Linked DNA regions of Homo sapiens. The protein of the gene in region 1 purifies or fractionates together with the protein of each later gene. This does not show direct contact. Each region holds a gene or a part of one and is shown on either strand. Other genes may lie near its edges.

What was found. Proteins that work in one complex are often made in the same cells at the same time.
Region 2: the proteins of GPR18 (region 1) and FLG purify together in Homo sapiens (affinity purification with mass spectrometry; 2 studies listed by BioGRID and IntAct, with this or other methods). This does not show direct contact.

What each region holds. Positions count from the first base shown.
Region 1 is NC_000013.11:99,254,673-99,260,730, forward strand, and holds GPR18 (N-arachidonyl glycine receptor), read right to left. Parts: upstream 3,708-6,058; 5' UTR 3,482-3,707; intron 1,848-3,481; exon of another isoform or gene 1,656-1,847; intron 1,235-1,655; 5' UTR 1,201-1,234; coding exon 205-1,200; 3' UTR 67-204; downstream 1-66. UniProt on the Homo sapiens protein: G protein-coupled receptor (GPCR) that plays a role in diverse physiological processes particularly within the immune and nervous systems.
Region 2 is NC_000001.11:152,311,740-152,316,241, reverse strand, and holds part of FLG (filaggrin), read left to right. Parts: intron 1-764; 5' UTR 765-785; coding exon 786-923; intron 924-1,284; exon of another isoform or gene 1,285-1,494; coding exon 1,495-4,502.

The DNA of each region.
Region 1 (6,058 bases):
ACAAGGCTTGACTAGGAAAGAAAAATCAGATGCTTTTCTCTGAATAATTCACAAAAATGTTTTATATAAGTTTTTAAAATGAAGATAATGAATTTATTTTTTCAAGAGAAAAGGGACTTGATAGTATTATACAGAATATCCATTGACGCCAGAGTAGTTAGTGAAGTGAATTTTGATGGGATTGAAATGAAAGAACCTTATTATTCATAACATTTCACTGTTTATATTGCTTAGTGACCGTAGACTACCAGATCGGAAACTTTTTCTGCGCATGCTTCGAAGGTAATTACGGTATAGCATGACACTAATGACTCGAGCCTGAAATTGTTTTGAAACGATGTAGTAGAGAATCACATCCAGACACGTGCTGAGGTTCATGAGGAAGGTGGTAAAGGCTCCCCAGGGATTGTAACTGTTCTCCCCCGTTCCCAGCATCAGGAAAGCGAAACAGATGTGGAAGGGCATAAAGCAGACGAGCACCTGCACCAGCAGCGTGATGATGATCCTTATGGACTTCTCCTTGACTTTGGGTTTCAGCTTAGACGTCCTGCCGTGAAGGAGATTATGAATAATGACCAAGTAGCACCCAATCATGATGAACAAAGGAATCAAGAAAAAAAATGTCAGTCGAGTGAGGTTCAGCACGTTCACAGCTTTTAGATAGATGATGTCAGAAATCTTGAGGCAGGTGGCGGGAGTGGAGTCTTTATCTGGGTCTTTATAGAGCAGTAGCAGAGGGGTGGTCGTGGTCAGGGTCATTATCCAGACTCCCACACACGCCAGCACGGCTTTGCACGTGTTTTTAAGTTCTTTGGCGTACTTCGGCTGTACAATGGCCATGTATCTGTCAGCACTAATAAAGGCAAGAAGCCATAAAGCAATGCTTGGGTAAAACACTGTGAGAGCTCCAAGAATCTGGCAGAAGTACTCTCCAAATGGCCATTCATCTTTTGCATAATAAAACATTCGAAAGGGTAAAGTCATTATAAATATCAAGTCCACTAATGCCACATTCATCATATAGATGGTTACCGTGGTTCTCTTCTTGGTGGTACAACTGAAAACCCATAATGCAGTGATGTTAACAAATAATCCAATTATGAAGATACAGCTATAGAAGACAAGGGCTGCAATTTTGTATTCATCTGGATGTGAGCTGTTAAAAGGGACAGGTTGATCTTGATTGTTCAGGGTGATCATTTTACAGCTTGTTGGTAGGCATGATACTTAGAAACTGTAAAAATAGTTAAGAAAAATAAGAATAAAATCGTTGGTTAAAAAATAAATGCTTAACATTCTCCCACTCAGCTTGACTGCCAGTGAATTTTAAGTTCGAGAGCATTTAATCAAGGAACGATTCAACTGGTTAACTACTGAACATTCACAGTAATTCTCATTTGAGAGAGAATGGGAACTTTTCCTTTGTTACAGCTATAGCCCCACTGTCTATTGAGCATGTAATAGGTACTCAATAAATAAATATTTACTGAATTGATGAATAAATGAAGGAACTTTTGATGAGATGATTCACAGCAACTCTACTTTGCTAAAAAACTCTAGTTTGTAATTCTCTAGTTTGAAAATGAAGACTTGTGTAGCTGGCTATTAAACTTTTTGTTTTTTTTAAAGTGGAAACACTTCATAATATTTATTACCTTATGTTCTCTTTAAATTATCATAGGTTGAGAAACAGCAATGTTTTGTGTCATGGTCAGCAGATCAAGAACTAGACTGTTAGAGCAATAGATGAGCTGTTTTCTAGTGCACAATTGGGAGTACGTAAAGCCAAGTCTTCCAGGTTTTGTGATTTCAGCTGCTCTACTTCAGTGGTTCACAGAAAGCAGCACCTTGAAAAAAGCTAGTGCCGTTAGTAACTTTCATATCCTCATTCCATCTAGATTCAGAAGCTTCAATATTATTTAAATTTTAACAATTTTCAAAGTAAATCCAAAAAAGGAGTATCTAAGACAAGTAGATATTAATAAGAAGTCATTCAGTAACTTGATGTGTATGTAGAAACTTATAAATTTCCATCACCAAAAAAAAAAAAACCGTCCATTTTAAATGGAAAGGAGGTTATTTGGGGTTGCAAATATCATTGACTCCTCAGTGTGAAACTTCATTCCCCCATGATGCAACACCAACAACAGACTTCAAAAATAGACTTTGCTGCAATGAGATGGAATCTGTGGCATCCCCTTGTAATATGGAGGTGGATGAAAAGTTTCCTTCAAAAATGTCACTTTGCAGAGTGGGCTGTCTTGAAATCAGCCCAGAATTTCTCTTTAAGGAAAACTATGGGGGAGATTTGCTGTCTGTGGTCAGTGGCATCACGGGCTATTGATAATTAAGAATTAACTTGAGCAATTGCTGTGGTTAAACACAAGAAACGTGCCTGTCTGCCTTCCTTCCTTTCCCTTCCCTTCCCTTCCCTTTCTTCCCTTCTTCTCCTTCTTTCCTTCTCAAATATTTAGGTTAAATATGATTTAGGAGCATAATTCTATATATTTAAAAACATATTAAATTTTCCAAATATTGGTGTGACTAGAATATTAATTTCTATCAAATGAGGAAAGTGCTACAGAGAAAAATTATATCTCTAGTGTCATTCAAAGGAGAGTAATCTTGGAGGCTTAAATCTTATTTTTAACTGGAATGCATTCTTATTAAATAGTAGCAATTATAATATAAATGAAATTTTGTATTTGTTTTTCTTTTTTTAGTATTGCATCAGGACTCCCTTCACCTATCCTCATCCTTCAATTTTGTGACATAAGTCCTGTACTTACAAACCATCTTGAGTCTTTTTTCCCACGTTATGCTCAAGCTGTTTTTATGTAGCTTGTCACCAATACTTATATTCATTTGCTGACGTTTGAAAAAAAATGAGTGATGCATGTGTTTTAAAGGCATTATAGTATTGATTGTGCTCTGCAAACACAGAAATTTTTGGATAAATATTGAAAAGTGATTGACTTTAAAGTCAGCTTTTTAAAAGCTATAGATACCATGATTATCTGTAGCTTTTCTTTTCTTAAAAACCATTAAGTTATTTCATGAAACAATGTAATTGAAAACATGTGATGAACATTCCTAAATATACATATGATTTACCATAAACATTTTCTTTCCTTAAGTTGAAAAAAATTACATTTAGTATTAATGTAAAGCAATATTGAAAATAAATGTAAAATCATATTAATGTGGAAAGATGATTATATAGCCTATTTCAAGGTCTTTCACCAACATAGTTTGTTATGTTTATTTTTTTAATTAAATATATTTTTTTAATAGAGACGGGGTCTCACTATGGTGCTCCTGGGCACAACTGATCCTCCTGCCTTGGCCTCCCAAAGTGTTGGAGTTACAGGCGTGGGCCATTGCGCCCAGCCTGTATTATTAAAATGAAATGATTTTTGAAATGCAGTACATAAAGCATTACTTTTGACAATAATCATGAAGTTAATTAAATGCTGCTTACCTCCTGTCCATCAAAAGTCTGTGTGAGAGATGAGCATTTTTCAGCACTTCCACTTCTGTCGAAGGGATATCTTTGAGTTGCTTCTGTTAAAATAGCTCTTTCTGGAAACAGTGTATTTAAGAAATGTTGTATTTTGTTTTAGACTCTTTTGTTGCTTTAAAAAGTAGTTTCCAGTGTAACGCTTGGCGTCGGAGTTGGTGCTGGGCTGACTTTAATTGCTGCTTTGTCTCTTTCAGGAAGTGCTCTCTGAAATAGGCTTTTTCACCTTATGACTTTACCCTGGATGTGGTTTTTCTCTTTCACAAATGATTTGTTTATGAAGTCACACTTAGCATAAGCTCCCCTTGAAATGATGGCATATATTTAAGATAATTATATACAAAGGATAAAGTTTCTTCAGTTTGTGTACTTTGATGCTTGAAGTCTGCATCATCTATGGAAAGAGAAGATTTGATATTGAGTAAAAGGGGGTTTAAAGTCTAGCTTCTTTGCTTTATAAGCTATGTGACTTTGTCTAGTTACCTACCCACTCTGACTAACCCTTTGTTCCTACTTCATTTCTGTACAGTTGAAATAGAGATAATACTATATCCAGTAGGATTGTAGGGGCCCTAAACCAGAAAGATCCCAAGTGCTTAATAGTACCTGGCACTTAGTAGGTACTCCTAAATGGAGTCTCACTTTTTACTACCAAGTTATTAAAAATCATAGAATATCCACATTTCCACTTTTTACTATTTAAACATTTCTAAATGCTTAAAAGTAGGATCCTTGATTAATTGCTTCTGCTTTGCCACATACATTTATCCACTTTAGTTTGCTGTATTTTGTAAGTCTGCTTTTCTAGTGCGTGGAAGTCTAGAAATAATTTCTTTTGCATAAAAATTTCTGCAAATCTTAGCAGAAAGGACTCTGAAGTCTTTAGTGGACTGATTTACATATTAAGAGTGTTTTCACCTAAGAAGGGAAATGAAACCAGCAGAAAGGGAAGTGAGCAACGAATCGCTGCCTGCCTTGTTAGGTTAATTTTGTTTTACTTTCTCATTTCTTAAAAAAAATTATCTCTCATTTGCTTATCCTAAAATTTTAATTATCTTTATGTTTGGTTATGCATGGTTTGTCAACTTTTTAAAGGGTTCATGAACTTAAATGTATTTGTTTTTTTGAATTTTAGACAGTTTGGGGTCCATCCTTTTTTTTTTTTTTCTCAGACAAAACCATAGTAAATCTGTGGCTTAGAAAAGTTACTTAAATCCTTGCCTTTGGTGATAAAATACTTTTGATTGTTACAACCTGCCAGAATGATGGGTTTTAGAAGTGTTGGAGACAACCATAGCAACTATTTCTTGTGTGGATGAAGAAATTGAAGGCCAGTTACTTGCTTAAGAACTCAAGGTAAAGCCAGGTCCAGTTTCTCCCGCTGTAATAACTTCTTATGAGGTAATTATATTGATCTGTCCACTAGATAGGACTTCTTATGGCTGAATCACATTCATCAGTTTTTTATATGTGATGTTATATTTCATTCATCACACAGGAGTTTGATGTTTCAGCTGGACAGAAATCTGCCTGCATGCAGACCTAATCTGTCCTTTGCCTTATTCACATAGCTTAGGACTTTTCTAAAATTAAGTATTGATTAGCTTCCCCATTGCTGCTAAAATCAACAGATACATTGATGGCATGTGTCTAGAAGAGTCCTTTCATCAAGACTTGAATTCTTCACGGTGCACAGGGGCATTCTTGTTTCTGAATTGCCAGACTCTTAGAGGAGGCATCCAGGAGCACCTGAGGGCTCTCCATAGGCCTGGCTTCAGGTTGGGGTGAGCTCTCACTTTTTCCTCATCTTGCTCTCCATTCCAGCCCTCTGGACTGGCTACATTTGCTCTTCCTGCCTCTCACATGCTGTTCCACCCACTGTGGCATTCCTCACCACTGTCTCCCACCTGATGGCATGGCCTGCTGCTCTTTGTTCTTGTAGCTACCTTTTTCAGGAAGCTTTCTCTGCCATCCGAAGCTGGGCTGGTTTCTCTGCCCTCCGAAGCTGGGCTGGTTGTTCATCCCTGCAGGTTTCCTTAGCACTTGGTACCTATCCCTGTAGTGGCACATGTTTGCATTGTTACTGCATATTTACTTGCTTTTTCTCCTCCACTAAATTGCATTCCTTGAGAGTTGGCATGTGTTGCATATGTGTGTAGAGAAGAGGCATTTAATATTGGTTGAATTTCTGACTGAACAAGTAGGTGAAGAAATGGAGAGGTTGGGGGAGGAATGGATAAATGTCTGGGCCTTGAGTCAGCAGGCAGGGACACTTTGACCAGCTTATGAGATGGGGAGACTTAGGCAAGGGCCTGAGGTCTGTCGTCCTCCCCTGCAACCCATGAGCCCTATAGCATTGACCCCCGTTCGCTGTGCTCCTGGATCTTCGCGATGGTTTTGTGTTGGCAGGGAATTATAGTGAAAAGAAACTGCCCAGTCATTTGACAGCAAGTAAACAATGGGTCAAGGATTCAACTTGTATAATGTAGACACAAGTTTCTTTAATACTTGAACCTAATGAATTTTTTTTTTTCCCCA
Region 2 (4,502 bases), on another chromosome or scaffold:
TTAGTTGTGACTGCTACAGTAATCTCCTTCACATTGTTTTCTACAGTATTTTAGTTTCACCTGGTTTTGTAAGTCCTAATAAAGTTATAATTCTTTATATAATACACACTTAGATTTATTGACATGCTTACTAATTTCTTCACCAATGAGATAAACTGAACATTCCTTAAATGGCAAAATGAAACCCAGTCAGAAAAACCTTTCTCTTTAAATATTGAAGAGCTATTAAATCCATCCTATACAATGAAATATTATAAACTTCATGAAATGTTTAAAAAACAAATAAAAAATTGAATGAACTTTCATTGAGTATCTTGTCATATGGCTAACTGGCTTTCAGAGAATTGTGTCTTAGCAAATTAATCATTTATTAAGTTAGCTTTTGGGGAAGTAATTTTCAGTAAATTTGTATAAGTAAATTTTACTGCTTAAAACCAGTCAGCCTTTCTAAATTCTTGTTGCTAGCAATGGCAAGATCAGCAAGAGGGATGATCTTACCTAGAGCACACTGAGGTCTGTGAGACTACTAAGTCCAGCTGTAAGTGGGCACAAGGCCAAAAAATGGGCAATTTTATTTAAGTCAGGAAAACTCTATTCATTTGTTTTATGTAGATGGTAGAGAAAAGTTTCTCATGTCCATCTTCCATTCTTAAAGATGGATTACTTAGAGGAAAATGTAGGTTTAAAATGTGGAAAATGATTGTAATAATATAACCTAGAAAAAAAGATGTATAAAAAAGTGCATTTTCATTTCTTCTTTCTAGGTTCACATTTATTGCCAAAAGATGTCTACTCTCCTGGAAAACATCTTTGCCATAATTAATCTTTTCAAGCAATATTCAAAAAAAGATAAAAACACTGACACATTGAGTAAAAAAGAGCTGAAGGAACTTCTGGAAAAGGAATTTCGGCAAATCCTGAAGGTAAGAGTCTCTGACAAGACCAAAGATAGAGCATTTGTTTTTCTCATCAATAATCTAAGCAAGGGTTATTTTGAGCTCTTTGTGAACTATTTCTCTTAAAATAGGAAAAGAGTTAATCTTGTCTCAAAAGAGATAGATTTTATTTTCTTCCCCTATACCTGGATGTATATTATAAACATAAAGACACCCTCAGAGAAAAAAATATAAATATTTAAAAATTAATGTAAATTAGTTCTTAGTATTTTGGTATTTATAATATTCTCCCAAACATCAACATTACTAAGGGGATTTTTGTTAAAGACAACTAAGTAATGAATTATATACACTTCTGACTTTTAAAATAAGAAAAAGAGTCACTTACCCCATCAAATCTTGATACCTTACTAGTCTACATCTTTGTTCACATATAACACCTGAATGAGGATGAGACAAAAAAGTCTTAAAAAAAAAAAAGATTTTGTCCCACTTTTTAATACTCAAAGATCAGGTTCCTTAAATTAACTTTGAATTAATTGGCTGATAATGTGATTCTGTCTGATGCAGTCTCCCTCTGTGACTTCCCTCTGTACAGAATCCAGATGACCCAGATATGGTTGATGTCTTCATGGATCACTTGGATATAGACCACAACAAGAAAATTGACTTCACTGAGTTTCTTCTGATGGTATTCAAGTTGGCTCAAGCATATTATGAGTCTACCAGAAAAGAGAATTTACCGATATCAGGACACAAGCACAGAAAGCACAGTCATCATGATAAACATGAAGATAATAAACAGGAAGAAAACAAAGAAAACAGAAAAAGACCCTCAAGTCTGGAAAGAAGAAACAATAGAAAAGGGAATAAGGGAAGATCCAAGAGCCCAAGAGAAACAGGGGGGAAAAGGCATGAATCTAGTTCTGAAAAAAAAGAAAGAAAAGGATATTCACCTACTCATAGAGAAGAAGAATATGGAAAAAACCATCATAACTCAAGTAAAAAAGAGAAAAACAAGACTGAAAATACTAGATTAGGAGACAATAGGAAGAGGCTAAGTGAAAGACTTGAAGAGAAAGAAGACAATGAAGAAGGAGTATATGATTATGAAAATACAGGAAGAATGACTCAAAAATGGATACAATCAGGCCATATTGCCACATATTACACAATCCAGGATGAAGCCTATGACACCACTGATAGTCTATTAGAAGAAAACAAAATATATGAAAGATCAAGGTCATCTGATGGCAAATCATCATCTCAAGTGAACAGGTCAAGACATGAAAATACAAGCCAGGTACCATTGCAGGAGTCCAGGACAAGAAAGCGTAGGGGATCCAGAGTTAGCCAGGACAGGGACAGTGAGGGACACTCAGAAGACTCTGAGAGGCACTCTGGGTCGGCTTCCAGAAACCATCATGGATCTGCGTGGGAGCAGTCAAGAGATGGCTCCAGACACCCCAGGTCCCATGATGAAGACAGAGCCAGTCATGGGCACTCTGCAGACAGCTCCAGACAATCAGGCACTCGTCACGCAGAGACTTCCTCTCGTGGACAGACTGCATCATCCCATGAACAGGCAAGATCAAGTCCAGGAGAAAGACATGGATCCGGCCACCAGCAGTCAGCAGACAGCTCCAGACACTCAGCCACTGGGCGCGGGCAAGCTTCATCTGCAGTCAGCGATCGTGGACACCGGGGGTCTAGCGGTAGTCAGGCCAGTGACAGTGAGGGACATTCAGAAAACTCAGACACACAATCAGTGTCAGGCCACGGAAAGGCTGGGCTGAGACAGCAGAGCCACCAAGAGTCCACACGTGGCCGGTCAGGGGAACGGTCTGGACGTTCAGGGTCTTCCCTCTACCAGGTGAGCACTCATGAACAGCCTGACTCTGCCCATGGACGGACCGGGACCAGCACTGGAGGAAGACAAGGATCGCACCACGAGCAGGCACGAGACAGCTCCAGGCATTCAGCGTCCCAAGAGGGTCAGGACACCATTCGTGGACACCCGGGGTCAAGCAGAGGAGGAAGGCAGGGATCCCACCACGAGCAATCGGTAAATAGGTCTGGACACTCAGGTTCCCATCACAGCCACACCACATCCCAGGGAAGGTCTGATGCCTCCCATGGGCAGTCAGGATCCAGAAGTGCAAGCAGACAAACACGAAATGAGGAACAATCAGGAGACGGCACCAGGCACTCAGGGTCACGTCATCATGAAGCTTCCTCTCAGGCTGACAGCTCTAGACACTCACAGGTGGGCCAGGGACAATCATCGGGGCCCAGGACAAGTAGGAACCAGGGATCCAGTGTTAGCCAGGACAGTGACAGTCAGGGACACTCAGAAGACTCTGAGAGGTGGTCTGGGTCTGCTTCCAGAAACCATCATGGATCTGCTCAGGAGCAGTCAAGAGATGGCTCCAGACACCCCAGGTCCCATCACGAAGACAGAGCTGGTCATGGGCACTCTGCAGACAGCTCCAGAAAATCAGGCACTCGTCACACACAGAATTCCTCTAGTGGACAGGCTGCGTCATCCCATGAACAGGCAAGATCAAGTGCAGGAGAAAGACATGGATCCCGCCACCAGCTCCAGTCAGCAGACAGCTCCAGACACTCAGGCACTGGGCACGGACAAGCTTCATCTGCAGTCAGAGACAGTGGACACCGAGGGTCCAGTGGTAGTCAGGCCACTGACAGTGAGGGACATTCAGAAGACTCAGACACACAGTCAGTGTCAGGCCATGGACAGGCTGGTCACCATCAGCAGAGCCACCAAGAGTCCGCACGTGACCGGTCAGGGGAAAGGTCTCGACGTTCAGGGTCTTTCCTCTACCAGGTGAGCACTCATAAACAGTCTGAGTCCTCCCATGGATGGACAGGGCCCAGCACTGGAGTAAGACAAGGATCCCACCATGAGCAGGCACGAGACAACTCCAGGCACTCAGCATCCCAAGATGGTCAGGACACCATTCGTGGACACCCGGGGTCAAGCAGAAGAGGAAGGCAGGGGTCCCACCACGAGCAATCGGTAGATAGGTCTGGACACTCAGGGTCCCATCACAGCCACACCACATCCCAGGGAAGGTCTGATGCCTCCCGTGGGCAGTCAGGATCCAGAAGTGCAAGCAGAACAACACGTAATGAGGAACAATCAAGAGACGGCTCCAGGCACTCAGGGTCACGTCACCATGAAGCTTCCTCTCATGCCGACATCTCTAGACACTCACAGGCAGGCCAGGGACAATCAGAGGGGTCCAGGACAAGCAGGCGCCAGGGATCCAGTGTTAGCCAGGACAGTGACAGTGAGGGACATTCAGAAGACTCTGAGAGGTGGTCTGGGTCTGCTTCCAGAAACCATCGTGGATCTGCTCAGGAGCAGTCAAGACATGGCTCCAGACACCCCAGGTCCCATCACGAAGACAGAGCCGGTCACGGGCACTCTGCAGACAGCTCCAGACAATCAGGAACTCCTCACGCAGAGACTTCCTCTGGTGGACAGGCTGCGTCATCCCATGAACAGGCAAGATCAAGTCCAGGAGAAAGACACGGATCCCGCCACCAGCAGTCAGCAGACAGCTCCAGACACTCAGGCAT